7 linked regions of the Homo sapiens genome follow. The protein of the gene in region 1 interacts with the protein of each later gene in a biochemical or structural test. Each region holds a gene or a part of one and is shown on either strand. Other genes may lie near its edges. The genes, in order: ESR2, PIAS2, REXO4, BCAS2, DAP3, CCDC62 and NLRP6.

The links.
Region 2: the proteins of ESR2 (region 1) and PIAS2 form a complex in vitro, tested with the Homo sapiens proteins (one study listed by BioGRID).
Region 3: the proteins of ESR2 (region 1) and REXO4 form a complex in vitro, tested with the Homo sapiens proteins (one study listed by BioGRID).
Region 4: the proteins of ESR2 (region 1) and BCAS2 form a complex in vitro, tested with the Homo sapiens proteins (one study listed by BioGRID).
Region 5: the proteins of ESR2 (region 1) and DAP3 form a complex in vitro, tested with the Homo sapiens proteins (one study listed by BioGRID).
Region 6: the proteins of ESR2 (region 1) and CCDC62 form a complex in vitro, tested with the Homo sapiens proteins (one study listed by IntAct).
Region 7: the proteins of ESR2 (region 1) and NLRP6 form a complex in vitro, tested with the Homo sapiens proteins (one study listed by BioGRID).

The regions. Positions count from the first base shown.
Region 1 is NC_000014.9:64,287,509-64,291,888, forward strand, and holds part of ESR2 (estrogen receptor beta), read right to left. Parts: intron 1-4,380.
Region 2 is NC_000018.10:46,826,633-46,831,012, forward strand, and holds part of PIAS2 (E3 SUMO-protein ligase PIAS2), read right to left. Parts: intron 3,236-4,380; coding exon 3,102-3,235; intron 1,499-3,101; coding exon 1,327-1,498; coding exon of another isoform or gene 1,311-1,326; exon of another isoform or gene 1-1,310. UniProt on the Homo sapiens protein: Functions as an E3-type small ubiquitin-like modifier (SUMO) ligase, stabilizing the interaction between UBE2I and the substrate, and as a SUMO-tethering factor.
Region 3 is NC_000009.12:133,415,211-133,419,186, forward strand, and holds the start of REXO4 (RNA exonuclease 4), read right to left. Parts: upstream 2,801-3,976; 5' UTR 2,635-2,800; coding exon 2,410-2,634; exon of another isoform or gene 452-2,409; intron 1-451.
Region 4 is NC_000001.11:114,568,982-114,572,140, reverse strand, and holds part of BCAS2 (pre-mRNA-splicing factor SPF27), read left to right. Parts: intron 1-1,390; coding exon 1,391-1,441; intron 1,442-2,068; coding exon 2,069-2,149; intron 2,150-3,159. UniProt on the Homo sapiens protein: Required for pre-mRNA splicing as component of the activated spliceosome. Component of the PRP19-CDC5L complex that forms an integral part of the spliceosome and is required for activating pre-mRNA splicing.
Region 5 is NC_000001.11:155,734,091-155,736,800, reverse strand, and holds part of DAP3 (small ribosomal subunit protein mS29), read right to left. Parts: intron 1-2,710. UniProt on the Homo sapiens protein: As a component of the mitochondrial small ribosomal subunit, it plays a role in the translation of mitochondrial mRNAs. Involved in mediating interferon-gamma-induced cell death. Displays GTPase activity in vitro.
Region 6 is NC_000012.12:122,823,072-122,826,571, reverse strand, and holds part of CCDC62 (coiled-coil domain-containing protein 62), read right to left. Parts: intron 3,207-3,500; coding exon 3,153-3,206; 3' UTR 3,113-3,152; intron 154-3,112; exon of another isoform or gene 151-153; coding exon of another isoform or gene 103-150; 3' UTR 1-102. UniProt on the Homo sapiens protein: Nuclear receptor coactivator that can enhance preferentially estrogen receptors ESR1 and ESR2 transactivation.
Region 7 is NC_000011.10:276,584-281,560, reverse strand, and holds the start of NLRP6 (NACHT, LRR and PYD domains-containing protein 6), read right to left. Parts: upstream 3,155-4,977; 5' UTR 2,992-3,154; coding exon 2,963-2,991; intron 2,235-2,962; coding exon 1,954-2,234; intron 1,728-1,953; coding exon 1,689-1,727; intron 1,478-1,688; coding exon 1-1,477.

The sequences.
Region 1 (4,380 bases):
TATATTTCAGATATATCAGATTCACATGATTCACAGATTAACTCTTTGTCAGTGGCATCTTGAATAGTTAGGTACTTGGTAGCCAATGCAAAGAGTTTTTCTTCCTAAGCAGAGCCATAATAAGGGGAAGAAATGATGAACTTACACCATTGTAATAGTTCTCTGAGACAGGAGAACAGGTAGCAAAAAAAGACCTCCTTTCTACCAGAGGTCTGTAAAAATAAGTCAACAAACCCATTCTGGTTGAGAAGCCCTCCTCTAAAACAGAGATATAAACTGGTCAAAGGAAAGACTCCCCAAAAGATTTAATTTCTTTAACATTGTAGGGCAGAGTTTTCCCAACACATCGATTGAATGTTCAAACATGGCCTCAGTACAATGTTCTGGTACAACAGGAAAAAATTGTCTCTAAAGAGTTTAATTGTTGGGCCTGGCATGGAATTTCACCTGGCCAACCAAAGAACCAGTACCCAGACATCCTGATTCTAAGAATTATTCATTTATTTGCATGTCAATTTTCTTTAGTCACCATAACCTAAAATAGTTGGTCCATATCCTGGGTGGTGAACAGGCTTTGTTTTCTGTCCAGAGACCTCTCTCTCTCTCCCAGCACACACCCCTGTATTTGGCCCTCTCAGGTCACATCTGAATTCAGCCAGAAAGCTTTTTGTACACATGGGATCGTGCATGGTGTTCTAATGTACTGGCTGGGAAACATACTATGGCTTTTGAATTAAAAGAAAAAAGTAGTATTTAAAATTCCCAATTTTGACAATGATTCATGGACAAGAAAAAGTTTGGCCCTAGAAATGGCAGAAAAACACTCCAAAAAGACTACACTTTTTTTTTTTTTTTTTTGAGATGGAGTCTTGCTCTGTTGCCCAGGCTGGAGTGCAGTGGTGCAATCTTGGCTCACTGCAAGCTCCACCTCCCGGGTTCAGCCATTCTCCTGCCTCAGCCTCTCAAGTAGCTGGGACTACAGGTGCCCGCCACCATGCCCAGCTAATTTTTTCTATTTTTTAGTAGAGACGGGGTTTCACCATGTTAGCCAGGATGGTCTTGATCTCTTGACCTCGTGACCCGCCCGCCTTGGGCTCCCAAAGTGCTGGGATTACAGGCATGAGCCACCGTGCCAGCCAAGACTAGACTGGTTTTTATCAAAGCACCTGTAAATCTAGTTAATAAGAAATCAGTCACCCGGGCGCGGGTGGCTCATGCCTGTAATCCCAGCACTTTGAGAGGCCAAGGTGGGCAGATCACCTGAAATCAGGAGTTCGGGACCAGCCTGGCCAACATGGAGAAACCCAGTCTCTACTAAAAATACAAAATTAGCCGGGTGTGGCAGCGCTTGCCTGTAAACCCAGCTACTCAGAAGGCTGAGGCAGGAGAATCGCTTGAACCCAGGAGGTGGAGGTTGCGGTGAGCCGAGATCACGCCACTGCACTCCAACCTAGGTGACAAGAGCAAAACTCTGTCTCAAAAAAAAAAAAAAAAAAAAGGTCAGCCACCATCAAGCCTGTTCTTATGTATATTCTATCAATGGATAGAGCAGAACATTCATTCTAGCCCCAGCTCTGCCTGAAAGCCAGGCAATCTTAGACAAATCCACAAACTCCCTGAGCTGCCACATCTTCTTCAGTAGAATCAGGTACCTATTTGGTGCTGTACCTTTTCACGGTGCTCTGAGGGTGAAATGAGATGATGTCTGTGAAAGGATTCTGAGGCCGGGCGCAGTGGCTCACGCCTGTAACCCCAGCACTTTGGGAGGCCAAGGTGGGCAGATCACCTGAGGTCGGGAGTTTGAGACCAGCCTAACCAACATGGAGAAACCCCGTCTCTACTAAAAATACAAAATTAGCCGGGCATGGTGGCACATGCCTGTAATCCCAGCTACTCGGGAGGATGAGGCAGGACAATCGCTTGAACCTGGGAGGTGGAGGTTGCAGTGAGCTGAGATTGTGCCATTACACTCCAGCCTGGGCAACAAGAGCAAAACTTCATTTCAAAAAAAATAAAGAAAAAGAAAAAGAAAAAAAAAAAGAAAGCATTCTGTAAGGTATTATTACACATCCAAGAAGATGAAGCCAGTCTATTGGTATATCACTGGATACACATTTAGTGTTGGTTGGAATTTCCAGACAAGTTACAATGTCTTTATGGCCACCCTGAAGATTTTTGCCTCCTAATTTTACTTTTTGACTTCTGTCCACAGAAATCCATCACCCCTAGTCCAGATAGCTGGGCTGCTGGTAGCCTGCCAACACTGTGTGTGTGGACAAAATGCCACATATTCCTGATGCCATATTCTCAAGCTTGCAGACTAGGAGGATAAGTCTAGGAGGATAAGAATAGAGGATAAGTCCTCATCCCTATTCTTCTTCCACCTGCCCATCACACTTTCCCAAGCATTCAGTTCAAATGCTCCACATTTGTGTGTCCTGCAGAAGTAAAAAATTCACGCTCACAAAGCAGCAACTAGAAGGAATTTCATGGAAAAGATTTAAAAAGATTTCTTAAGCAACAAGCATCCTTGATGTGCATAAGTAGCTGTTTGACAATTATTAGCTTTTTTGGGGGGTGGGGGTTATACTCTAGCTCTGTAACTCAGGCTAGAGTGTAGTGGCAAGATCATGGCCTACTGCAGCCTTGATCTCCTGGGCTCAAGGGATCCTCCAAACTCAGCCCCCCAAGTAGCTGGGACTAAAGGCATGCACCATCATGCCCAGCTGATTTTTAAATTTTTGTAGAGATAGGGTCTCACTGTGTTGCCCAGATTGATCTTGAACTCCTTGCCTCAAGCAATCCTCCCACCTCGGCCTCCCAAAGTGCTGTGATCACAGGCATGAACCACCACACCTGGCCAATTATTATCTTTAAATGTATTCTTATTTATTTATTTATTTATTTATTTAGAGATAGAGTTTTGCTTTGTTGCCCAGGCTGGAATGCAGTGGCATGATCGCGGCTCACTGTAAACTCGGCCTCCCAGGTTCAAGCAATTCTCATGCCTCAGCCTCCTGAGTAGCTGGGACTACAGGCTTGAGCCACCATGGCCAGCTAATTTTTTGTATTCTTAACAGAGACAAGGTTTCATTATTTGGCCAGGCTGGTCTTGAACTCCTGCCCTCAAGTGATCCAGCCACCTAGGCCTCCCAAAGTGCTGAGATTACAGGCGTGAGCCACCACACCCAGCCTTTTTAAATATATTCTTTCAAAACAAAATATTAAGGCCCTCAATTAATTTAATATTAGGAAGATAAAACACTCCAAAATCACCAGAGAACTCATCATTAATAACTGATTTGCATGTAATTCTTAAGAACATGTACATAAGGAAACCCTGTTTCCTTCTAAAATGAGGAAAAGCTAATTCTCCTAGTAACCAATTGGCGCTTATTTAGTTGGATAGGAAAGAGTTTCAAGGGTTTGAATAGGGTAGGAGGACCAAGCCTCGAAGGCAGGGGTGGGAGAGAGTTCATCAGTCTTCTCAAGTGTCTTCTCTCTCAACAGCAAGTTTCTGCTCTTCCCTAACACCAACAACAGCCACAGACCATGCTCTGTAGGAACTGGACCAAATTCAAATATTCATTTGGGACAGGGTCAGAGAGAATTCCGAGTGAAGGGATTCAAGATGACACAGCCAATCCAGAAGTTAGGCTGAATGCACTCAACTCCCCTTCCAGGCCTGGGTTTGACAGTAGAACACACAACAATTTACTAACAAAATGCTGCAGTCTGGCTTTGAGGAAACATATACAAGTCCAGCAATCTATCTTTCTAGGTCACCCTAACTCTCCTGCCCTCTCTCAAGTACACCCACACAAAGATTCTCCACTAAAAGCCCTTCATTTTCAAGACCTGTCATAATTCCAGCTAGGAAGGCCAACTATCCAGTTTGCTAGCTCCTCATAAACTTGCCACTCTGCATATCCTAGTTACTACCACTGTAACTGGGTATGCAAGGTAAGTTACATATTTAAAATACAGGCTGTTTTTCATAGAACAAAGGAAAAAGGAAAAAGACATCAATTTTATATATATATATGTTAGCAGTACCTACCAATAACAGGCTCCTAACTGTATACTGAATTGAATACTGTGTTAAACAGTGAAAAATATTAGTTTACAAAAGGTTATACATCTCCACCCTGCAGGAAAATCTAGACTTCAAGACATGAGCACAGAAATTTAAAAATCCTGACATCTACAAATAAGTTGGACACAGACCTAAGCCCCTATGAAGATAAATATTTTACCTTCAGCAATTGTAATCACTCTGCATTTTAAATGTCTTCAATTTGTCATTTTCAATCCCTGTTTTGCTTCTCACTATTTGATAATATGCAATTTCAGGTAGCTTTCTTAATCTCAGGTATAATG
Region 2 (4,380 bases), on another chromosome or scaffold:
TTACAGATGTACCAACCAATTTGTCTCAAAGGAGCAATAAATGATTGGCACACCAGGAAAAAATCCACTTGAAATACTTCCTCATTTTGTTCCACACACACAAAAACCCCACCTCATTCTAATTAAATGGGTAGAAGTAAATATATGCCTTTAATATATGTGTAAATTATATTTGGAAATGTAAGTATTTTAACAGCAAAGAAGGCAGCTGAAAAGGTTTAATTCTTAAAATTATAAAAATAAACAATGTTGCAAAACAAGACATTTTATATAAAATGTCTAAACAGGCATTATAGACACAAAAAAACGATTGCCTAGATTTGGGGTGTAAATAGGAATAAACTACAAAAGAACATGAAGAAAGTTTTTTGGGTGTTGAAAATATTCTACTACTGAATCATGGTGATGATTGCACAGCTCTATGTATTTACTAAAATCACTGAATTGTGCCATTATATACTTAAGATGGGTACATTTTATGCTATGTAAATTATAACTCAGTAAAGCCATTAGAAAACCAAGTGGACCAAGAGGCCAAAAAGATGACACTAGCAAACCCAAGTTTGAAAGAATGTGTTCGTAGACAGCCAGGAGAACTCTCCTGTTATCTCCTTTTATGGTTCAAAACCTCTCTGAAAAAGCAACTATTGTTAAATACCCAAACCTGATTTTTAATGCAGGTCAGTAATGCCTTCTGCCAGATAACTTACAGAGAATCCACGCTAAAATTCAGGTAGAATGCCATCCTACCCACCTATATTTTGCCCTGGAGAGGGTGAAAAGGGAAAGGAATCAATTTTTATTGGGAAATTACCACATGCCTGACACCGAGGCTTTCTTTCATCTCATTAAAACCTGAAAATGATCCTGTAATATAGGCGTTATTTAGCTCCATTTAACAGAACACAAAAAAGAGGCTCAATCAAATTAAGTATTTCATCTAAGATCACAGAACAAGTAAGCGATGGTGTGCCAAAATTGGAATCCATACTTGTCAGATTCCCAGTTCCACACTCCATTACACCAGACTTTCTCATCTGGTCTGAGATGCCAAATTTCCTTACAAACAGGTTCAAGAAAATAACAAAAAGTCTCAGGTAGGAAATAAATACCTCACACGCTCACTTTCCAAAGATGTAAATATTTTCTCCATCAAAATTTGCTTCCTATAAACAATGTGCTTACTCGAAAATATTTCAACTCAACAAAGGCAAATTAAAATAGCCTTCTACAGTTATGCCATTTCCCAAAGAGACATTTATAAATCTATCCAAGAGCAATTAGTTGCAAGGGTAATGAACAATAGTGAACTATAAATTAACAAACCCTTTGGTTGGGCTGCTTTGTGTTTCTGACATAAAGATGCATTTCCTTTTGGCAGGAGGGTCTTCCTCTTCGTCAGAAGAGCTTTCTATTGTAAGATCAATAACATCTACTTTCTTCTTGCTTGCCTCACTGGCTACAGTCACTGAACAAGGCTTACTGAGGACGCTTGAACCTGCATGTAAAGAAACAAAAGGAAAAAAAAATTAAAGGTATAACACAAATAAACTCTAGTGGTAGAGTCTAGTATATTCAGTATAGTATGTTCCTGACAACATATAGCCAGTGAAGCCACATACTCCAACCCATGGACAAATACCAACTCCCTAACTCCAGACCTCTGTCTGTAAAATGGTTGTTCACCTAGGGAGACAGGTGAGCACTATTCCTTGACAGATGGTTAGAAGTCTCATTCAGACAGAATGTTCTTAGTTATGCCTCCAATACCACTGAAGGATTTGTGCAGCTCCTACTGCTCATCCTGTCTCTGCAGGTCAGCAGTCGTTTTACAGAAAGACACGCAGAGTTAGGGAACTGGTCTCAGGTCATGGGACAAGAATGGGTGAGTTCAACAGCTATGTATTCTCGCACACATGTGGCACAGTTAGCTCAGAACCAGATATTTCCATTCTAGCAATTATGCTTATATCAAAGAAAGTACAGACTTTTCACCATAAGCCAGAACTTGATAAAAACTTTCATCTTGATAAGTTGAAAAAAACCCAAACCTCTCAATTAAGTTACTAAGACATTTAAACTTTTCTTATGAATTATCTGCTAATCACGTAGGTTCTTTCTACCCACAAAGACAGTCTCACATACCATATTTGTTAACTCACATTTTCACAGAAAAGTATGTTATTATCTGTAATGTATTTAGTTAAAAATGAATGACAGTTGATAATGGAAAAGCAACAGAAACTTATCAACTAAATCACTCCCCATTTTTCTGAAAGATGAGAGAAACCTTGGTCACTGCACTCAGGTTTAGTGTCAATCGCAGAGGAATAATTAATAATGGCATAAATCCTTTATTTTTTCCCCTTTCTTCTTACTCCATTCATTACATTGTTTGTTAGAACTTCAAATGTAATCAGAACAAAACTGAAATGCAGTGAGTAGACTGTTAGATAAAAAGAAACTCTAAGTTCACGTGTGGGTTTCAATGAGACTGTTAGATAAAAAGAAACTCTAAGTTCACCTGTGCGTTTCAATTACTCCAAATGCCCTCAGTTTCCCTACTTAGTGTGGATGGATGCAGGCAGTTGATGGATGAGTATACATTCTAGGTAATCAAGGCAATGTTAAAATTCTTCTCCACAAAGAAATGGAAGGTAACAATTTGTTTACTTTCTGAGCAACTAACCTGTGACCATCCCCAAACCACCAAGGCCATTAACCAATGATGCAGCCTCTCTAACCTCACCTCCACCTAGGGTTCCACCTACAGATACTCTAAGAACAATTCTGAAAAACTGTCCATATAAATTCATTTGTGACTTTTTGTTTTGTAACAAACATCATATTTTAAAATGATTTTAGATGAATGTTTCCTTTATTCTACACAGGAAAAATATACTATGAAATAGCTGATAAGATGGTATAAACTTTAGCACATTCCTTCAGGAAAGAATAAAAATCATTTGGGGGAAAACTATATATCATCAAAAGACTGAGTCAACAAGCTGAATTCCAAACGTATAGTTCTAGGGGCCAAGATTAATGATAATGTTGCACGAGTCTCACTGCTTTACTCTCTGCTGCTATTCTACACATACTTTCTATTTTTGTACACGGTTGGCTGGATACTTTCATAGCTTCTTTCTTCGGTCTCATTGGACACCAAGAACCATCTTCTTGGAATTTGATCTCATCTACATCAGAACAGTCATTGAGAATTTCCATAAAAAGCCTAAAAAACAATTAAGAAGTACATACATGTGATCAACAGCTTTGCCTAAAGGTGAAATAAGAAAGTAATACACATTACCTTGAAAACATAAGTAATGTTAGCTGACCCCCTTTTCTTTTGGTATTGCAATACTTTATACTTTACAACAATTATTACACTCCCTTTGTCCTATGTTTTAAATCTGTAACAGGCAACATAATAGTTAAGTAACTTACTGAGCATCACCTGTGTAACTCAATGAGTATAAATGGCTAGAGAGAAGTAGATACCTGGAGCCTCCTAGCTGAGGCTGGCAGTAAGAACAACCTCTAACACAGCACAAAAAACAAACATCAGCAGATAAAGGTTACTATATAGTAAAATAATTTATAAACTTTAACTTCGAGAAAAAAGGATAATGGGGTAGGGGAAGGAGGGAAGAAAAGGGAAATAAAAGAAGTCTCAATAAATTTAAAATAAGTGTATTTGAATTAAGTTCAAATTAAGTCCGTACCAGAAAAACCTGAAAACTTGGAAACTAAACAAAAGAAACATGAGTCAAAGATAAAAATAAGATTTTAAACTGAATGAAAATAAAAATGTAATAAAATTTGTGGACTGTATTATTTAAACACTGAAGTAGTATTTAAAGGAAAATTTATAGCATTAATCTTCCCTAATTAGAAATAAAGTCTCAAATCAGTAACTTTATGAAACTAGAAAAAAAAGCAAATTATAGTAAAAGCAAGAAAAGAGAAATAACAAAGAACAAAACAAACAAATAGAAAAAAAGAAAAACAGAAAAATCAGTTTCTAGTCAAACTTATTTACACTCACTCCAAAAGAAACAGATAATCTAAGAAGCCCTATGTCTATTAAATAAGTTGGATCTGTAGTTAAAAACTTTGCCACAAAGAAAATCCTAGGCCCAATGTCTTCTCTAGGGAATTCTACCAAATATTTGAGGAGAAATAATACCACTACTTCCAACTCATTGTACAAGGTCAGCATTACTCTGATAATAAAACCAGGCAGGCATTGCAACAAAACTAAATACCCAACATTCCCCCATGAACTCTGCAAAACAAATCCAACAACAAATATACACAGGATAACAAATCATGACCAAATGGGGTTCATTCCCACAATACAAGATTAGTTTAATA
Region 3 (3,976 bases), on another chromosome or scaffold:
GCTGTTTCTTTGCTTATCTTATTATAATGCATTTTGCACCTGCTCCTTCATGCATACAAAATGTCAAACTCATTCTACACCTTGGGTACCTGTTGAGTGGCTGGACACCACAGACCACTTCCCTTTTCAGCTTATCTAGAAAGAATTTTGGAGTTAACTTCCCTCACAGCTTGGGCCAACATCCTGCTACACAGAAATCGCTTTTTTTTTTTTTACAAGATTCCCTGGTTTGCTACTGCTGTGAAGATCTCAGGAAGGTGGGGGGTGTCATAAATGAAAAGAAAAGCTTCTGTCAAACTGGAGTGGCTGAAGAACTGCTAGCAGCCACACACCTTGGCTGTCACCCAAGCAGAGGCTCCTGTAGTCTTAGAGCCCAGCTTCCTCCCTGTGTTCAAATCCCCAGTGGGAGTGGGCGCCACCACAGTGCGATGATGAGGCGGGTGCTACTTACCTGTTCTGTGATAGGTAAAGAACTGAAGGGCTGACTTTCTTGGATGAATTAGAAAACACTCCAAAGTTTCCCTATAGCACACATCCCTTCCATTCACTTATTTTGCTTTTCTTTCTTGGGAGAAGGAAGAAGAGTTGGTGTTCAAGAAATCCCACAGAACCCTGGGGCTGCCCACGGGAATTTGACTGGTCCTGTGTGTTAAGACAGGAATGTCTGCACTGAGATACTGTGCAGAGTATTAGGAGGTTCAAGAAGCGCTCGGGGAGGCTGAGGTGGGAGGATTGCTTGAGGTCAGGAGTTGAAGACCAGCCTGGGCAACAAAGTGAAACCCCATCTGTATTAGTTCATTGTGCACTGCTATAAAGGAATACCTGTGTTTGGTAATTTATAAAGAAAAAACGTTTATGTAGCTCATGGTTTTGCAGGTTGTACAAGAAGCATGGTGCCAGCATCTGCTTCTGGTGAGGCCGAAGGAAGCTTCCCATCATGGTGTAAGGTGAAGGGGGAGCAGGTGTGTTGCGTGGTGAGAGAGCAAGCAAAAAAGGTGCTAGGCTCTTTTTAAACAACCAGCTCTCAAATGAACCAGCAGAGTGAGAACTTACTCGTTACTGAGGGGAGGGCACCAAGTCATTCATGAGGGATCTACCCCCATGACCCAATACCTCCTATGGGCCCCATCTCCACCACTGGGGATCACATTTCTTTTTTAAAAAAACTACTTTTTACTTTTATTTAGAGATGGAATCTCACCATGTTGCCCAGGCTGGACTTGAACTCCTGAGCTCAAGTGATCCTCCTGCCTGGGCCTCCCAAAGTGCTGGGATTACACGTGTGGGCTACTCGGGAGGCTGAGGCAGGAGAATCACTGGAGCCCAGGCAGCAGTGAGCTATGATCCTAACAGGAGGTAGCTCCAAGGGAGCTCCAAGGGATGTGGTAAGAATGTATGAGTGACGCACGTGGAAGAGTGTCTAGGAGAGAGCAGGCAACCTCTACAGAAGTGCAGGTCACTAGGGAGACAGCAGGTACAACACAGCCTTAAAAGCATGGACTCCAGAGTCAGCCACCTGGTTCCCAGCCGCAATCTTAGATGATCTATTTAAACTTTTCCAGCCTATTTCCTCATCTGTACAATAGCGATGATGGAAGTGTCCACCTCACAGTCTTATTGTGGGGATTGCAACACGCATGGCATAGAGCACATGGCAGAGTGCACATTTTTAGGAGCTCAATTAGTATTTACTTCAAGACCGTAAGTGTCGCTAGAACCCCATCACATGTCTGCTATCTGCTTTTCACTTCTACACAGGAATCTTCTTTCTCCCTGTCTTGCTACACAGACCAGTGTGTTCTTTCGTTGTTGTTGTTTGAGATGGAGTCTCGCTCTGTCGCCCAGGCTGGAGTGCAGTGGCGCGATTTCGGCTTACTACTGCCTCTGCCTCCCGGGTTCAAGCGATTCTTCTGCCTCAGGCTCCCCGAGTAGCTGCGACTACCGGCGCGCGCCATCACGCCCGGCTAATATTTTTTGTACTTTTTTAGTAGACACGGGGTTTCACCATGTTGGCCGGGCTGGTCTTGAACTCTTGACCTCAGGGGATCTGCCCGCCTCGGCCTCCCAAAGTGCTGGGATCACAGGCGTGAGGCCCCGCGCCCGGCCTGGTTTCGGGATTTTAAGCTAAATTTCTCTTTGTAAAATCCATTCTAGTTAGTTCATTATGCAAAAGGTACAAGGGTTTATCTTTGCTTTTTTGTACTTGAAATAATTCTTTCATCAATTTCTTTCAAGCAAACAAGTTCGAGACCTCCCTCAACAGGCCACCTTTCTTGTGAAAAGCTGTTTACAAGATTTCGATTCAAATCTGCCTTTACAGGTCTTTTGGGGCTACCCAAGTCTTTCCCTCCGTCGCGTTCTGCGGGAATGAGCTGCGCAGCGCTCCGCCCGGGCCCCCTCAAGCCTCACCTCTTGCAGCGCCTTCCAGTTTTGAGAAAAGTCTTCTGGTGCCTTTGGAGGTCGCACCACAGCACCGGGGCCGCTTGCTGGCTTCTTGCTTACTTCCCGCGCCTTGCTTTTCCAAAACCTTTTTTTCTTCTTGTTTTTCTTCCGAGTGAGCGTCTTGACAGGACCCGGCTTAGCCACGGGGCTGCTCGGGGCGCGCTTGGAGGCGGGGACCTTCGCCTTCCCCATCCTGCTGCCGTCCAGCGCCTGGGCCGGCGGCCACCCGAGACCCCGGCCTCCCCGGGCCCGGCGCCCTGGCAGCACAAGCGCCTGCCCAGGCCAGGCCGAAACACACCCACCGCAGGGACCCCGTCCAGGAAAAGACTCCGGAAGAGACCCCGCACGCGTTGCGCATACCTCAGCACGCACGCTCCAGTCCCCGGAAGCGCTCGTCTCTCCACAACCGGCTGGAAACCGGATCCCTGCCTCTGGTTCCGCGCAGCCTGGGCGGTTCACCCGCACGGGACTTGGGCCGCCGCCTTAGCCAGCGGCATCCGGGGTCATCGACCTCGAGTTTGACTGGGGCAAGCCGAGGACCTCCCCAAGATCCGGGATGGGGATGAGAGATGCGAACGCCGGAAGGGAACTGGGGGGCCGCTGTGTGTGTAGCACCTGGTAGGGCAGCTGAGCTGGGGGCACTGGGCGGTGGGGCTAGTGAGAGCCGGGCTAGGTCGCTCGCCTGCGTCCTGGACTCTCGAGCCTTTCCCGCCTTGGGCTGCTCCTTGCTCAGCCTCACAGCGGCTCATCTTCCACGTACAGTGGGGAAACTGAGGCCCAGGCACCGGGAGGAGTTCCTGCCAGTTCACTCTGTAGCAGGACGAGCCGCAGACAAGAACCCCTCAGACACCGAATTGTAGAAGGAAAGGGCTTTATTTAGTGGGGAGCATCGGCAGACTCACGTCTCCAAAAACCGAGCTCTCTGAGTGAGCAATTCCTGTCCCTTTTAAGGGCTTACAACCCTAAGGGGGTCTGTGTGAGAGGGTCGTGATCGATTGAGCAAGCAGGGGGTACGTGACTGGGGGCTGCATGCACCGGTAATCAGAACGCAACAGAACAGGACAGGGATTTTCACAATGCTTTTCCATACAATGTCTGAAATCTATAGATAACATAACCGGTTAGGTCAAGGATTGATCTTTAACCAGGCCCAGGGCGCGGCGCCGGGCTGTCTGCCTGTGGATTTTATTTCTGCCTTTTAGTTTTTACTTCTTTATTTGGAAGCAGAAATTGGGCATAAGACAATATGAGGGGTGGTCTCCTCCCTTACTTCTGCCGCCTGGGTTCAAGCGATTCTCCTGCCTCAGCCTCCTGAGTAGCTGGGACTATAGGTGCACGCCACCACTCTCTGCCAATTTTTGTATTTTTAGTAGACCTGGGGTTTCGCCACGTTGGCCAGGCTGTCTTGAACTCCTGACCTCCAGTGATCCATCCGCCTCGGCCTCCCAAAGCGCTGGGATTACAGGTGTGAGCCACCGTGCCCGGCCGGGAGTGGGTAGATTTGATGTGCGTGTGTAACAGGCAGAGGTTGATG
Region 4 (3,159 bases), on another chromosome or scaffold:
GAAACAATATTAGATTTAGAGCAAGAACACATTAGGGCCAGATGTGGTAAAAATGGACCCTGTAGGTGATTGATCCACTGCCTTAAGAGGAAATTGATATGATGTGGAATTATATCTTAATAAAGTTGTTATTTAAACTTAAAAAAGAGATTAAAATCTGTTTCATTACTTCTCTAAAATAATTATATGGTACTCTGTATTATTGAACTTTTCCCCTGTGCTAGTTACAGCTGACCTGGACTGGTATCTATTTTTTATTTTGCTATGCATATGTTACATGCAAATATGGACTGATATCTCATTCTACAACAGTTTTCTTTTTCTCACCTCTCTCTAGTTAGCAGTAGACAGGAGGAGAGAATGACAAGGTGAATGTATATGCAGAAATATAGAGATAAAAGGGGGTTGAGAAATAAAATAAGTGGGTACTCAGATATATTCCATCTTTTCTATGACAAGAAGTCATGACAGTTTAAGAAGTGACAAAAGGCCGTGTGGCTCACACATGTAATTCCAACACTTTGGAGGCTGAGGTGGGGAGATTGCTTGAGCCCAGGAGTTCAAGACCAGCCTGGACAACGTGGTGAAACCCTGTCTCTACAAAAAAGTAATGAAAATTAGCCGGGCATGGTGGCTTATGCCTGTAATCCAAGCTACTTTGAAGGCCTGAAGTGGGAGGATCAGTTGAGCCCAGGAGGTTGAGGCTGCCATGATTGCACCACTACACTCCAGCTTGAGCAACAGGAGAGCAAGACTCTGTCCCTCCCCTCCGCAAAAAAAAGCTGGGTACAGTGGCTCACGCCTGTTATCTCAGCACTTTGGGAGGCCGAGGCAGATGGATCACTTGAGGTCAGGAGTTCGAGACCAGCCTGGCCGACATAGTGAAACCCCATCTCTACTAAAAAAAAAAATACAAAAATTAGCAAGGCATGGCAGTACATGCCTGTAATCCCAGCTACTTGGGAGGCTGAGGCAGGAGAATCTCTTGAACCAGGAAGCAGAGGCTGCAGTGAGCTGAGATCTCACCACTTCGCTCCAGCCTGGGCAACAGAACGAGACTGTCTCAAAAAAAAAAAAGTAACCTAAGTACTCCAAGATCAGGCAGGGCATGGTAATCCCAGCAGTTTGGGAGGCCAAGGTGGGAGGATTGCAGCTCCTTGGGAGGCTGAGGCAGGAAGATTACTTGATCATGGGAGGTGAAGGCTGCAGTGAGCCATGATCACACCACTGCATTCCAGCATGAGTGACAGTCCTCGATTATGGAGTGTCCAACATAGTTCTTGGCACAGAGCTCCATAAATATGATTTTTGGCAGAAAAACTTGAAAAAGTTCACTTTTAATTGGTACTATTTTAATGTATTTTAATCTGATTTTCCTCTTTTCCTTCAGAAATCTAGTTCATATGATTGAACACGCACAGAAGGAACTTCAGAAGTTAAGGTAAATTGTTTTTTCCTATTACAGAATGAAGTTTAAGTGAACCTTTAATAAATAGAAAATAGGAGGAAAAAGAAAGCAAAGAGACTGCAGCCAGATGAAAGTAAACAATTGATCCACTCTCTTTGTTCAACATCTGACACTGGGTTTGCCCTACCTAAGTAGAGGAGAAATAGGCCTGAGGTCTGAAAACATCTCTGCCACTTGCAGCTTGCAAGTCTGCAAACATAGAAAGGCACTTTTAGAGTGGGAAAAGTTGCAGAATAACACATATAATCTGATTTTTAAAACCAATTTCTACACACACATATAGGAAAGCCTGGAAGGACACCCAGCAAAAACTCAACAGGAGTTATCAGGAAAAAGGAGACATGCATGAGAGGGGGGACTTGAGACTTGTAATCTGTGTGTGCTTGTGTGTGTGTGTGTGTGTGATTTCTCACAATGAGCATGTTTTATGAAACTTGTAATCAAAAAATAATTAGAAGAAAGGTAATTTCTACAGTTAGCCTATAACTGTACATAATATTGTTCTCATGGGATTAAGATATTCTCTTGTGTTATAGAGTTTTCTGTTGATTTAGGTCTTACATTAAAATGTAATTGGGTTGTATAAATAATTTTTTACAGAAAACATATTCAAGATTTAAACTGGCAGAGAAAGAACATGCAACTCACAGCTGGATCTAAATTGAGAGAAATGGAGTCAAAGTGAGTATCTATAATTCCATCATCTTTTAAATTGTTTAGCCCTTTCTAAGGTCGATTCAATAATATGATTCAAATAGCATTCAAATGGGATGCCACAGGTAACAAAGAAATGCTATTTTCTGAATTCACCCTTCCCCGTCTCTGCCTCTTTATAAGGTGTTAAAGAGAACTATAAACGAGAATTGAACCATTGGCGAAGGATCCTTTGCTAAATTGAACCATTGCTAAAGGATTCTGGTCTTAGAATACCCTGTTTTTAGTCTAGTATTTTTGGCCTTGAATAGAACTCTACCTTTATTCTCCTTTTAAACGGAAAAAAAAAAAAAATAGGCACGGTGGCACATGTCTGTAGTCCCAGCTACTCTGGAGGCTGAGGCAGGAGGATTGCTTAACCTGGAAGGTTGAAGCTGCAGTGAGTCATAATCACACCACTGCACTCCAGCCTGGGCAACAGAGCAAGACCTAGTCTTTAAAAAAAAAAAAAGGAAAAAAATTATTTTATAAAATCTTGTAGGGAGGGAGATTTCATACTTGGTAATTTTTTTGTACCTCAGGTTTATGCATTTTTAAAAATGTTCTTTTACATACACACATGTATACCTTTATACAATATAATCTTGAATATTTGTGTCATTTCTCTCTTCCTTTTTGCTTGGCCATTCCCTTTCTCCCTTCATTACTCAAGTCATTCTTGTTCCACCGTCTCCATGTACGTCTTACCAGTCTCGTTGGTACCCTTTCACGCTTTTTCCTCAATTTAATAAACTATTGCCTCTTTCCTTTTTGTTGATTAAATACTATCTTCATCACTCTTTCCTCTTTCTTCTGGTTTGCAAGTTCTCTCATCTGTTTCTAATTTGCTTTTTTATTAAACTTTTATTTTTAGATAATTATAGATTCACATGCAATTGTAAGAAATAATACAGAGAGCCAGGTGTGGTGACTCACATTGTAATCCTAGTGCCTTGGTAGGCCAAGGTAGGAGGATTGCTTGAAGCCAGGAGTTCAAG
Region 5 (2,710 bases), on another chromosome or scaffold:
CAGGACTCCACATATGGACTCCACATATGGTGGCTGGCTACTCGTGCTCTACGTGGCCACAAATGCTATATATTAAAAAGAGGTGGCTGGGCACAGTGACTCACACCTGTAATCCCAGCACCTTGGGAGGCTGAGATGGGCATATTGCTTGAGCCCAGGAGTTCCAGACGAGCCTGGGCCATGTGGTAAAACCCTGTCTCGACAGAAAATACAAAAATTAGCCAGGAGTGGTGCTGCGTGCCTCTAGCCCCAGGTACTCGGGAGGCTGAGGATTGCTTGAGACCAGGAGGTTGAGATTGCAGTGAGCTGCGATTGCTCCACTACACATACTGTCACAGTATGGGTGACAGAGTAAGACCATGTCTACACACACAAAAAAAAAGGCAATGCTTGAGGAGGCGGATGCTACTTGTGTGAATACACACACATACACACGCACACACACATATTGTGTGTATGTATTTTGGACAGTTTTGGCTTTTGAAACAAAGTTAATGTTTCATATTTTCAAAGGAATATGGTGGCTCATGCTGGTAATCCCAGCACTTTGGGTGGCCAAGGAGGGCAGATCGCCTGAGGTCAGGAGTTCGAGATCAGCCTGGCCAACATGGTGAAAATACTAAAAATACAAAATTACTGTCTCTACTAAAAATACAAAAATTAGCCGGGCACGGTGGCTCATGCCTGTAATCCCAGCACTTTGGGAGGCTGAGGCGGGCAGATCACAAGGTCAGGAGTTCAAGACCTGCCTGGCCAATATGGTGAAACCCCATCTCTACTAAATTACAAAAATTAGCTGGGCGTGGTGGCATGCACCTGTCGTCCCAGCTACTCGGGAGACTGAGGCAGAAGAATTGCTTAAACTCGGGAGGTGGATGTTGCAGTGAGCCGAGATTAAGCCACTGCACTCCAGCCTGGTGACAGAGCAAGACTCCATCTCAAAAAAAAAAAAAAAAAAAAAATTAGCCAGGCGTGGTGATGCGTGCCTGTAATCCCAGCTACTTGGGAGGCTGAGGCAGGAGAATCACTTGAACCTGGGAGGTGGAGGTTGCAGTGAGCTGAGATTGCACCACTGCACTCCAGCGTGGGTGACAGAGCAAGACTTCATCTCAAATAAAATAAAATAAAAAATAAAAATAATGGGAAAAAATACGCTAGATGGAAAACAAATGGAAACAAATGAAGTAATCAAACTGTATTTCTTTTTTTTTTTTCATTTTCTTGAGACTGAGTTTTGCTCCTGTTGCCCAGGCTAGAGTGCAATGGCACGATCTCGGCTCACTGCAACCTCTGCCTCCTGGGTTCAAGCGATTCTCCTGTCTCAGCCTCACGAGTAGCTGGCATTACATGCCTGCACCACCATGCCCAGCTAATTTTTTGTATTTTTAGTAGAGACAGGATTTCATCATGTTGGCCAGGCTGGTCTTGAACTCCTGACCTCAGGTGATCCGCCCGCCCTGGCCTCCCAAAGTGCAGGGATTATAGGCGTGAGCCACTGCGCCCGGCCCAAGGAACTTATTTTTTTCTTTCTTTTTCACTGTCTCCCAGGCTGGAGTGCATTGGCACATCTTAGCTCACTGCAACCTCTGCCTCCCAGGGTCAAGCGATTCTCCCACCTCAGCCTTCGGAGTATCTGGGACTATAGGCGCCCCACCACGCCCGGCTAATTTTTTTTTCTTTTTTTTTTTTTTTCATTTTTTGGTAGAGACGGGGTTTCACCATGTTGGCCAGGCCGGTCTAGATCTCCTGACCTCGTGATCTGCCCGCCTCGGCCTCCCAAAGTGCTGGGATTATAGGCATGAGCCACCACGCCCAGCCTGAGAGCTATCAAATCTGAAACTACTTTTCATATATTCTAGTATTGAGCTAATAAGTAAATATACTATGGCTACTGGCAGCAGATTTCTCATTATTTTAGATTAGAGTTACAGATATGGAAAGGGTATAATGACTGCTGTGATGGTAGCATGGAATTGGCTACTAGTAGGAACTCATAGTTTTTTAATATGATTAGAGAAACAAACGCAGATGTGTGTGGATGTGTATAAACATGTATATGCATATGGTTCACACATATACATACATACATGTATGTATGTACATCTATTTATGAACTTTGCTGTGAGGGCCTAGGAGAAAGGACACCTCAGTAGCAGTGAGTATACCTAGGACTCAGGCCTTGGTTGCTAAATACCAGTCTCCTCTAAAATAAGCCAATGCTCTTTGGAGAAATGGAGATTCCAGGGCTGGGCATGGGAAGTATAAGAGGGGTCTGGAACATATTCTCATGACAGAAAATAAAGAAGTGGTCAAAGAATGATAGGAGCTGGATATGGTGGCTCACGCCAGTAATCCCAGCACTTTAGGAGGCCGAGGTGGGAGGATTGCCTGAGGCTAGCAGTTCAAGACCACCCTAGGCAACAACATAGTTAAGACCATGCCTCTAAAAAAAAAAAGGAAAGAAAAGAAAAAGACAACATTCAGTGCTGGGTGTGGTGGCATGTGCTCAAGGCTACAGTGAGCTATGATGGTGCTACTGCACTACAGCCTGGGTGACAGAGTGAGACCCTATCTCCAAAAAAATAATGATGGGGACATTTTAAAAGGATATAGAAGTTAGCTTGAAGGAGCTTTTTTTCCTGTTGAGATAGGGCCGCACTCTATTGCCCAGGCTGGAGTACACTGGCAAAATCAGGGCCCACTACAGCCT
Region 6 (3,500 bases), on another chromosome or scaffold:
AGTGTAGATGTTTAAAAATTAACTTTCTAGTTCTGCTCCCAGCTGGAATTAAGTGCCGTTTATGAAGAACTAGAATCCTCTTTCAGTTTTACGGTTAAGTATTCATTCAGTATTGGTGTCTGCTTTCTGCCTTCCACATAGATGAGAAATCTGCTTTTGGATGAAGAAAACACAACATTAATAAAATACAATCAATTAATATTGGAGAGCATGCTATAAGCTCCTGGCGTCTAAAATATTAACTCTACATCCTGATTTTCATCAACATCAGGACATGCAAAATACTATAAATATGAAAACTCAGCGGAGAGAGGGAGGGGAGAGGAGGAGGGATGGGGGCGGGGACGGCGCTGCTCAGGCTCTCTGCTTCCCCAGTGTCTTTGAAATGCTGATATGCTTACCTTGAAAAGATCCGAAATGCCTGTACGCTTTAGCTTATCAAACTGGGTTCTGAGGAAACCGCATATGAAATGCAGGTTTGATAGAAGTAAACACAAATCCAGAAAGTGCTTACTGGGTCAATACACGTTTTTATGAAGATTTTACTCGATGTAAAACTTTTTTTTTTTTTTTTTTTTGAGACGGAGTTTCGTTCTTGTCGCCCAGGCTGGAGTGCAGTGGCCAAATCTCCACTCATTGCAACCACCGCCTCCCGGGTTCAAGCCATTCTCCTGCATCAGCCTCCCCAGTAGCTGGGATTACAGGCATGCGCCTCCATGCCCGGCTAATTTTTTTTTTTGGTATTTTTAGTAGAGACGGGGTTTCGCCATGTTGGCCAGGATGGTCTCAAACTCCTGACCTCAGGCGATCCGCCCACCTCGGCCTCCCAAAGTGCTGAGATTACAGGTGTGAGCCACCGCGCCCAGCTACCCCATGTAAAACTTTTATAAAACTTTACTCCACATAAAGACTTCTTGGCTAGGCGTGGGGGGCCACGCCTTTAATCCCAGCACTTTGGGAGGCCGAGGCGGGCGGATCACTTAAGCTCAGGAGTTCGAGACCAGCCTGGCCAACGTGGCGAAACCCCGTCTCTACTAAAAATACAAAAAAAAAAAAAATTAGCCGGGCATGGTGGCACATGCCTGTAATCCCAGCTACTTGGGAGGCTGAAGCAGGAGAATCGCTTGAACCCGGGAGGCGGAGGTTGCAGTGAGCTGAGATCGCACCACTGCACTCCAGACTGGGAGACAAGAGCAAAACTCTGTCTCAAAAAAAAAAAAAAAAAAAAATTAGCCAGGTGTGGTGATGCGCACCTGTAATCCCAGCTGCTTGGGAGACTGAGGCAGGAGAATCGCTTGAACCTGGGAGGTGGAGGTTGCAGTGAGCTGAGATTGCACCACTGCACTCCAGCCTGGGCGACAGAGCAAGACTCCAACTCAAAAACAAACAAACAAAAAACTTCTTTCTGGACAGACAGATGAAATGCTAAAACATTAATTTTGATTTTTTTTCAGCTATAATTTTTTTTCTTTTCTTTTTTTTTTTGAGACTGAGTTTCACTCTTGTTGCCCAGGCTGGTGTGCAATGGCACGATCTCGGCTCACTGCAACCTCCGCCTCCTGGGTTCAAGCGATTCTCTTGCCTCAGCCTCCTGAGTAGCTGGGATTACAGGCATGCACCACCAAACCCAGCTAATTTTTTGTATTTTTAGTAGAGACAGGGTTTCACCATGTTGGCCAGGCTGGTCTCAAACTCCCGACCTCAGGTGATCTGCCTGCCTCGGCCTCCCAAAGTGCTGGGATTATAGGCATGAGCCACCATGCCTGGCCCATATACCACATTTTCTTTATCCATTAGTTGATTGATGGGCATCTGCGCTGGTTCCGTATTTTTGCAATTGCGAATTGTGCTGCTATAAACATGTGTGTACAAGTGTCTTTTTCATATACTTTTCCTCCACGTAGATACCCAGTAGTGGGATTATTGGATCAAATCGGAGTTCTACTTTTAGTTCTTTATGGATAACCTCCACACTGTTTTCCATAGGGGTTGTACTAGTTTACATTCCCACCAGCAGTGTAAAAGTGTTCCCTTTTTACCACATCCATGCCAACATCTATTATTTCTTGATTTTTAAATTATGGCCATTCTTGCATGAGTAAGGTGGTACTGCATTGTGGTTTTTCTGTTTGTTTGGTTTTTTGTTTGTTTGTTTAGAGACAGAGTCTCATTATTGTCGCCCGGCTGGAGTGCAATGGTGCAATCTTGGCTAATTGCAACCTCCGCCTCCCAGGTTCCAGAAATTCTCCTACCTCAGCCTCCCGAGTAGCTGGGATTACAGGTGCCCGCCACCATGCTTGGCTAATTTTTGTATTTTTAGTAGAAACGCGGTTTCACCATGTTGGCCAGGCTTGTCTCAAACTCCTGGCCTCAAGTGATCCACCCGCCTTGGCCTCCCAAAGTGCTATGATTATGGGCATGAGCCACTGCGCCCGGCCCGCATTGTGGTTTTGATTTGCATTCCCCTGATAATTAGTGATGTTGAACATCTTTTCATATTAGATTCTGATTTTTAAAGCTGTGTCTATGTATTCACTTCCCTAGATTTAAAATTCTAGGTATTGAGAATAATAACTTTTTTTTTTTGAGACGGAGTCTTGCTCTGTTGCCCAGGCTAGAGTGCAGTGGTGCCATCTTGGCTCACTGCAACTTCTGCCTCCTGGGTTCAAGTGATTCTCCTGCCTCAGCCTCCCAAGTAGCTGGGATTACAGGCGCCCACTACCGCGCCTGGCTAATTTTTGTATTTTTAGTAGTGACAGACCAGGCTGGTCTCGAACTCCTGACCTCGTGATCCAGCCGCCTCAGCCTCCCAAAGTGATGGGATTACACGTGTGAGCCACCACGCCCGGCCTTTTTTTTTTTTTTTTTAAGAGACAAGGTCTCACTGTGTTCCCAGGCTGGAGTGCAGGAGAACTTTTTGATCTGCATTTCTTTGCAAGTAATTGACATTTTACTCTGATTAAATTTAGAAGTATGCATAAATTGGTCGAGCAAAAGAGAAAGTATTACAAGTCAAACAAATGCATGGCCTTGACTCAACGTTATCGATGTTCCCAAGTTACTTATTAAATATTAATTGAGATATAAGGTGAGATAAGCAAAGGTGACTTACTCGTGATCACGATGAATACTGAAGTTGCCTTTTGTTTCCTTCAATAACTGACAAAGGTATTTTTTTGAGCTGACTCTTCTGGGACCTCTGACTTCTAGAAAACAACTCCCAGATTAGTATTCAGGATAGAGAAACTAAAAAATTCTTAAGAAGACTAAACACAAATATAGCAGAAATGCCTTTAAGAGATGTTAGATGAGGCTGGGCGTGGTGGCTCATGCCTATAATCCCAGCACTTTGGGAGGCCAGGGTGGGCGGATCACTTGAGATCAGGAATTCAAGAGCAGCCTGGCCAGTATGGCAAAACCCCATCTCTACCAAAAATACAAAAATGAGCTGGACATCGTGGCGCCCGCCTGTAATTCCAGCTACTTGGGAAGCTGAGGTG
Region 7 (4,977 bases), on another chromosome or scaffold:
TCCTCCTCTGGCTCTTCGGTGTCCTCGAGCCCTTTGGCCCCCTCGGTCACCTCTGGTGCCACTCCGGGGCAGCCCTGTCCCTGTCCCTGCACCCACCGCAGGGCCTCCTGCTTCACACGCTCTGAAACCATGCAGCCGAAGTGGCGCTCGATGTCGCGCATCCGCTCCGCGCTCAGCAGTCCGAAGAGGAAGCGCGTGGTGAGCACCAAGTGGCTGTGCGGCTGGGCGTCCCCACGCAGGAGTGTCCCAACGCCGCCAGCCGCGGTCCTGGGCACCCCGCCGTCCTCCAGCAGGTAGGACAGTGCCGCGAGGAACTCCTGGAAGCTCTGGTCGATGAACTGGTAGGTGACCTCTGTCTCCAGCACGCCCGGCAGCTCCTTTTTGCTGAGAAACAGCGTCTGCACTTTGGAGCCACGAAGCTCCAGTTGCTCCAGTTCCTTCTCGGCAAACTGCGCCCTGCGTCCGAGGACGCCCTCGCGGGCCAGGCGGCACAGATTGCGCAGGTCGCCCTGCAACCGGGGCCCGTCGGCTACCGGAGCCGAGCTCAGAACGCTGGTGATGAAAAGCAGGTACACTGACGTGGTGGTCTTGGACGTGCGCGACAGGTCCCGACCGAGCTCCAGCTGCTGGCGCAGCACGGTGCACACGATCCAGCACACGAAGGGCACGAAGCACAGCGCGAACAGCGTCTCGTTCTCCTTCACGAAGCGGTAGGCGCGCTCGGCCCTCCTCTCATCCCGGAAATACTTGTAGAAATACTTCTTCTTGTCCTTGTCGGAGAAGCCGCGCACCTCGGCGCACTGCGGGGAACACAGGCGGCCCTGCAGCCTCCCGGGGGCGGCGGCGCGCGTGGTCACCAGCAGGAGGGCCGTGGGCAGCAGCGCCTTGCTCAGCAGCCCGCCTAGCACCCGCGCGCCGCTCGCCGCCTCGAAGGGGTCTGTGCAGGGCGCGGCCTCGGGGCCCCCCAGCGCCGGCAGCTCGTCCGCGCCGTCCAGGATGAAGAGCAGCCGCTGCGGCTGGGCCAGCATCTGCGGCACCGGCGCGCCGCGGTCGGGGCACTGGTCCAGGATCAGGTCAGCCAGGCTGCGCGTGCCCGGCCTCTCCAGCAGCTCGCCGCAGGGCATGAAGAAGGCGAAGTCCACCTGGCCCTGGTACAGCTTGCCCGCCGCCCAGTCGTACAGGATCTTTTTGGCCGCCATGGTCTTGCCGATGCCCGCCGGGCCCTGCAGCACCACGGTCAGCGGCCGCCGGCCCTCCTCGTCGCGGCGGAAGAGGCGGTTGAAAGTGTGCGTGTCCGAGCGCCGCGCGCGCCCCGGCTCAGGCTCTTCCGCGGGCCCCATCGCCTCCTCCGGGGCGGCGCTCTCGGGCGCGATGAGCAGCTTGGTGAAGCGCTTGGTGATCTTCACGGAGCGGGCGTTCCTCTCCTTCACCCGAGCGTGCAGCTGCAGCACGTGCTCCCGGTACTTCTTCTTGTACTCTGGGCGCAGCGGGAGACAGCGCGGGGACAAGGGTCGGAGGTGGGGCAGGCTGCGCCCTCCGGGAGCCCACGCCCTCCCCGGCCCTGCTCAGGCCTCAGTTTCCTCTACGGGACCACAGCCCACGCCCCTGGCGGCCCTCCCACCCCGGTCCTCCCCGGGACCCTCCAAGTGGGGTTGGGGACACTCGTGCCCCCCCAGCGAGAGACCCACCGGACACGGAGAGCAGCGTCCCGGAGCCGAGCCCGAGCCCTGGAAGGGAAACTGGGGTGAGGTTCCGCCGAGGGCGGGAACAGGGGAAGGCGCCACGGGGGTCCGAGTCACCCTGAGGAGCACGCAGGGTCCTACCCCTGGGGCCCGCGAATTTGTGGATAAAACGCGCGGGGGCCGGGGACCGCGCCGGGGCTTCTCCGGGAAGCGGGAAGGAGGGCAGCCCAGCCTCTGCCCAGACAGGAGGGACCTCCCGCGCAGAACTCACGCTGCAGCCGCCGCTCCTGGAGCTGCGCCGCCACGTCGCGCGCGTCCGCCCTCTTGAGGGTCTTGCGGGCCACCTCCAGGGCAGGCTCCGGGCCGTAGAACTGGGCCAGCTGCTCCGCGAGGTCCACGGCGTCCGCGCGCTCCAGCCGCCCCCACGGGATGCTGCGTCCGTCCGGGCCCACGTCGCGCAGCTTGTGGCGGAAGCGCTTCAGCTGCTCTTGGCTCAGTTCCTCCAGCGCAGCCAGGAGCAGCTCGCGGGCCACCGCGAGGCGCGGCCCCGTGCTGGAGGCGGGCGGGCGCGGGTCATCGGGGAGCGGCCCTCGGGTGACCCCCGCCCGCCCCCGACTCTGGCGCCGGAGAACCCACCGCGGGCAGGGCCTCAGGGAGTCCCGGGCCAAGCATCGTCTGGATCCATGGGGTGGCGGGAGGGGGCAACGGGGAGTGACCCCAGACTTTTCCCTCCCCCGTCCCCGGACCCGGGTCGGGGCGTCTTGGTGTTCTTCGCCCTCTGAGGGTGAAGTGGGCACTGGCCGCCGCTGATCTGAGCTCTGGGGGGCACCTTCCTCCCCTGCACCTCCCTTTCTGCTTCTGTCCTTCCACACCCCAGGACAGGTCACATGCCCCGAGGGAGGTATTTCCAAGGAACCCTGAGCTCTCTTTCCTCGCTTTCCTTCTTTTCCCTCTCTTCCCGATCCCGGAGCAGAACTGGCCTCTTTGGCAGCAGACACTGCCAGGCCCAGGCTGTATTCCTGGGCCCCCACCCCTGCCACACTTTGGTGGGGCCCAGCTTGGGGCCTTGCACCAGGGCCTGAATCTGAGCCCCTGGTGGGGAACAGACTCCACAAATGCCCTCTGTGGGGAGGCAGTGCTTGGCTCCTGAGCCTGGGAGTGAGGGTGGGGGAAGGATGTGGACAAGGGTGGAGAGCCTGAGGAAGTCAGCGGGTGAGGTGGAGGCCCCAGAGGGCTGAGACCAGCCGGTTCCCAGTGACCACCCTGGGGCCAGCACTCACCTGGAGCAGGGGGCCTCTGGCTGGTCCATGGGGTCTCTTCCTCCCTGGGTCTAGCACTCCGGGGCAGAGGTGGGGATCAGAGAGGTGATTCCTTCACAGGCTGAGCTGGAGCCAAGTCTTAGAGGTTGTCCAGCCCGGTCCATTCCCCGGGTCCACACACCGCAGCTCAGCTGGCACGAGATGCTGTTGGGCACCGTGGCACACGCAGAGCATTGCCCTTTAAGGGCTCCGTTTGGTGACCTTTGATTTTCTTACTCCTTTATCCCATTAATGTTCCCCAAGAACCCCTGGGTGTGGCATCGGGGCATGGCTGTGAGCAGGCAGCTTCAGAGCAAGGTGGGTTGTGTGAAGGAGGTGGCTGGCTCAGAGCCAGGCCTTCAGCTGAGGCCTGGGGAGAGGTTAGACTCTGAAGGCAGGGGTGAGGAAAGACTTCCAGGTAGAGGGAACAGGGGGGACAGCCAGCAGCACGCACCATATATGGGAGGGAAGGCAGTCTCCAGGGAGACGCCGGGCAGGGGTCTGCACTGCAGCCTCCCCACCCGACCTGAACAGCTGGCGGGCAGAGGCTGGACGTCAGGGGTGTTCGAGACCCCTGGGACCAAATGTGAGAGTGTGTGGAACGGGGGGGTTAATATGTGGAAATGAGAGGTGCTGGGTAAAATAAGGCTGAGACCTACTGGGCTGCATTCCCAGGAGGGTAGACATTCTAAGTCACAGGATGAGACAGGAGGTTGACACAAGATACAGGTCATAAAGGCCTTGCTGATAATGGTGTAAAGAAGCTGGCCCAAAACCACCAGAACCAAGATGGCAATGAGAGTGACCTCTGGTCATCCTCACAGCTCATTACTCTAGTTACAGTACATTAGCACACTAAAAGACACTCCCACCAACACGATGACAGTTTATAAATGCCATGGCAAAGTCAGGAAGTTACCCTATATGGTCTAAAAGGGGAGGAACCCTCAGTTCTGAGAATTGCCCACCACTTTCCTGGAAAACTCATGAATAATCCACTCCTCGTTTAGCATATAATCAAGAAATAACCATAAAAATGGGCAACCAGCAGCCTTTGGGGCTGCTCTGCCTATAGAATAGCCATTCTTTTATTCCTTTACTTTCTCAATAAACTTGCTCTCACTTTACTCTTTTTTTTTTTTTTTTTTTTTTCATGGAGTCTCGTTCTGTCGCCAGGCGGAGTGCAGTGGCACGATCTCGGCTCACTTCAAACTCCGCCTCCTGGGTTCAAGCAATTCTCCTGCCTCAGCCTCCTGAGTAGCTGGAATTACAGGCATGCACCACCATGCCTGGCTAATTTTTGTATTTTTAGTAGAGACGGGGTTTCACCATGTTGGTCAGGCTGGCCTTGAACTCTTGACCTTGTGATCTGCCTGCCTTGGACCTCCCAAAGTGCTGGGATTACTGGTGTGAGCGACCATGCCTGGCACTTTACTCTTTATGGATTTGACTCAAATTCTTTCTTGCATGAGATCCAAGAACCATGATGTCTGGATCAAGACCTCTTTCTGATAACAGTTTGGCTGTGTGTCCCCACCCAAATCTCATGTTGAATTGTAATTCCCAATGTTGGGGGAGAGACCTGGTGGCAGGTGATTGGATCATGAAGGTGGATTTCGTCCTTGCTGTTCTTGTAATAGTGAGTAAGTTCTCATGAGATCTGGTTGTTTGAAAGTGTGTAGCATGTCCCACTTTGCTCTCTCTGTCCTTTTGGCCACATGAATATTTGCCTGCTTCCCCTTTGCTTTCTGCCATGATTGTAAGTTTCCTGAGGCCTCCCCAGAAGCAAAAGTCTGTACAGCCCACAGAACCAGGAGCTAGTTAAACCTCTTTTCTTTATAAATTACCCTGTCTCAGGTATGTCTTTACAGCAATGTGAGAATAGACTAAGACAAATTATAACAAGTAAAGAGATTGAATTACTAATTACAGGGAAAAAAAACTTTCCCACAAAGAAAAGCTCTCAAGGGAATGCTTCCCAACTCATTCTCTGAGGC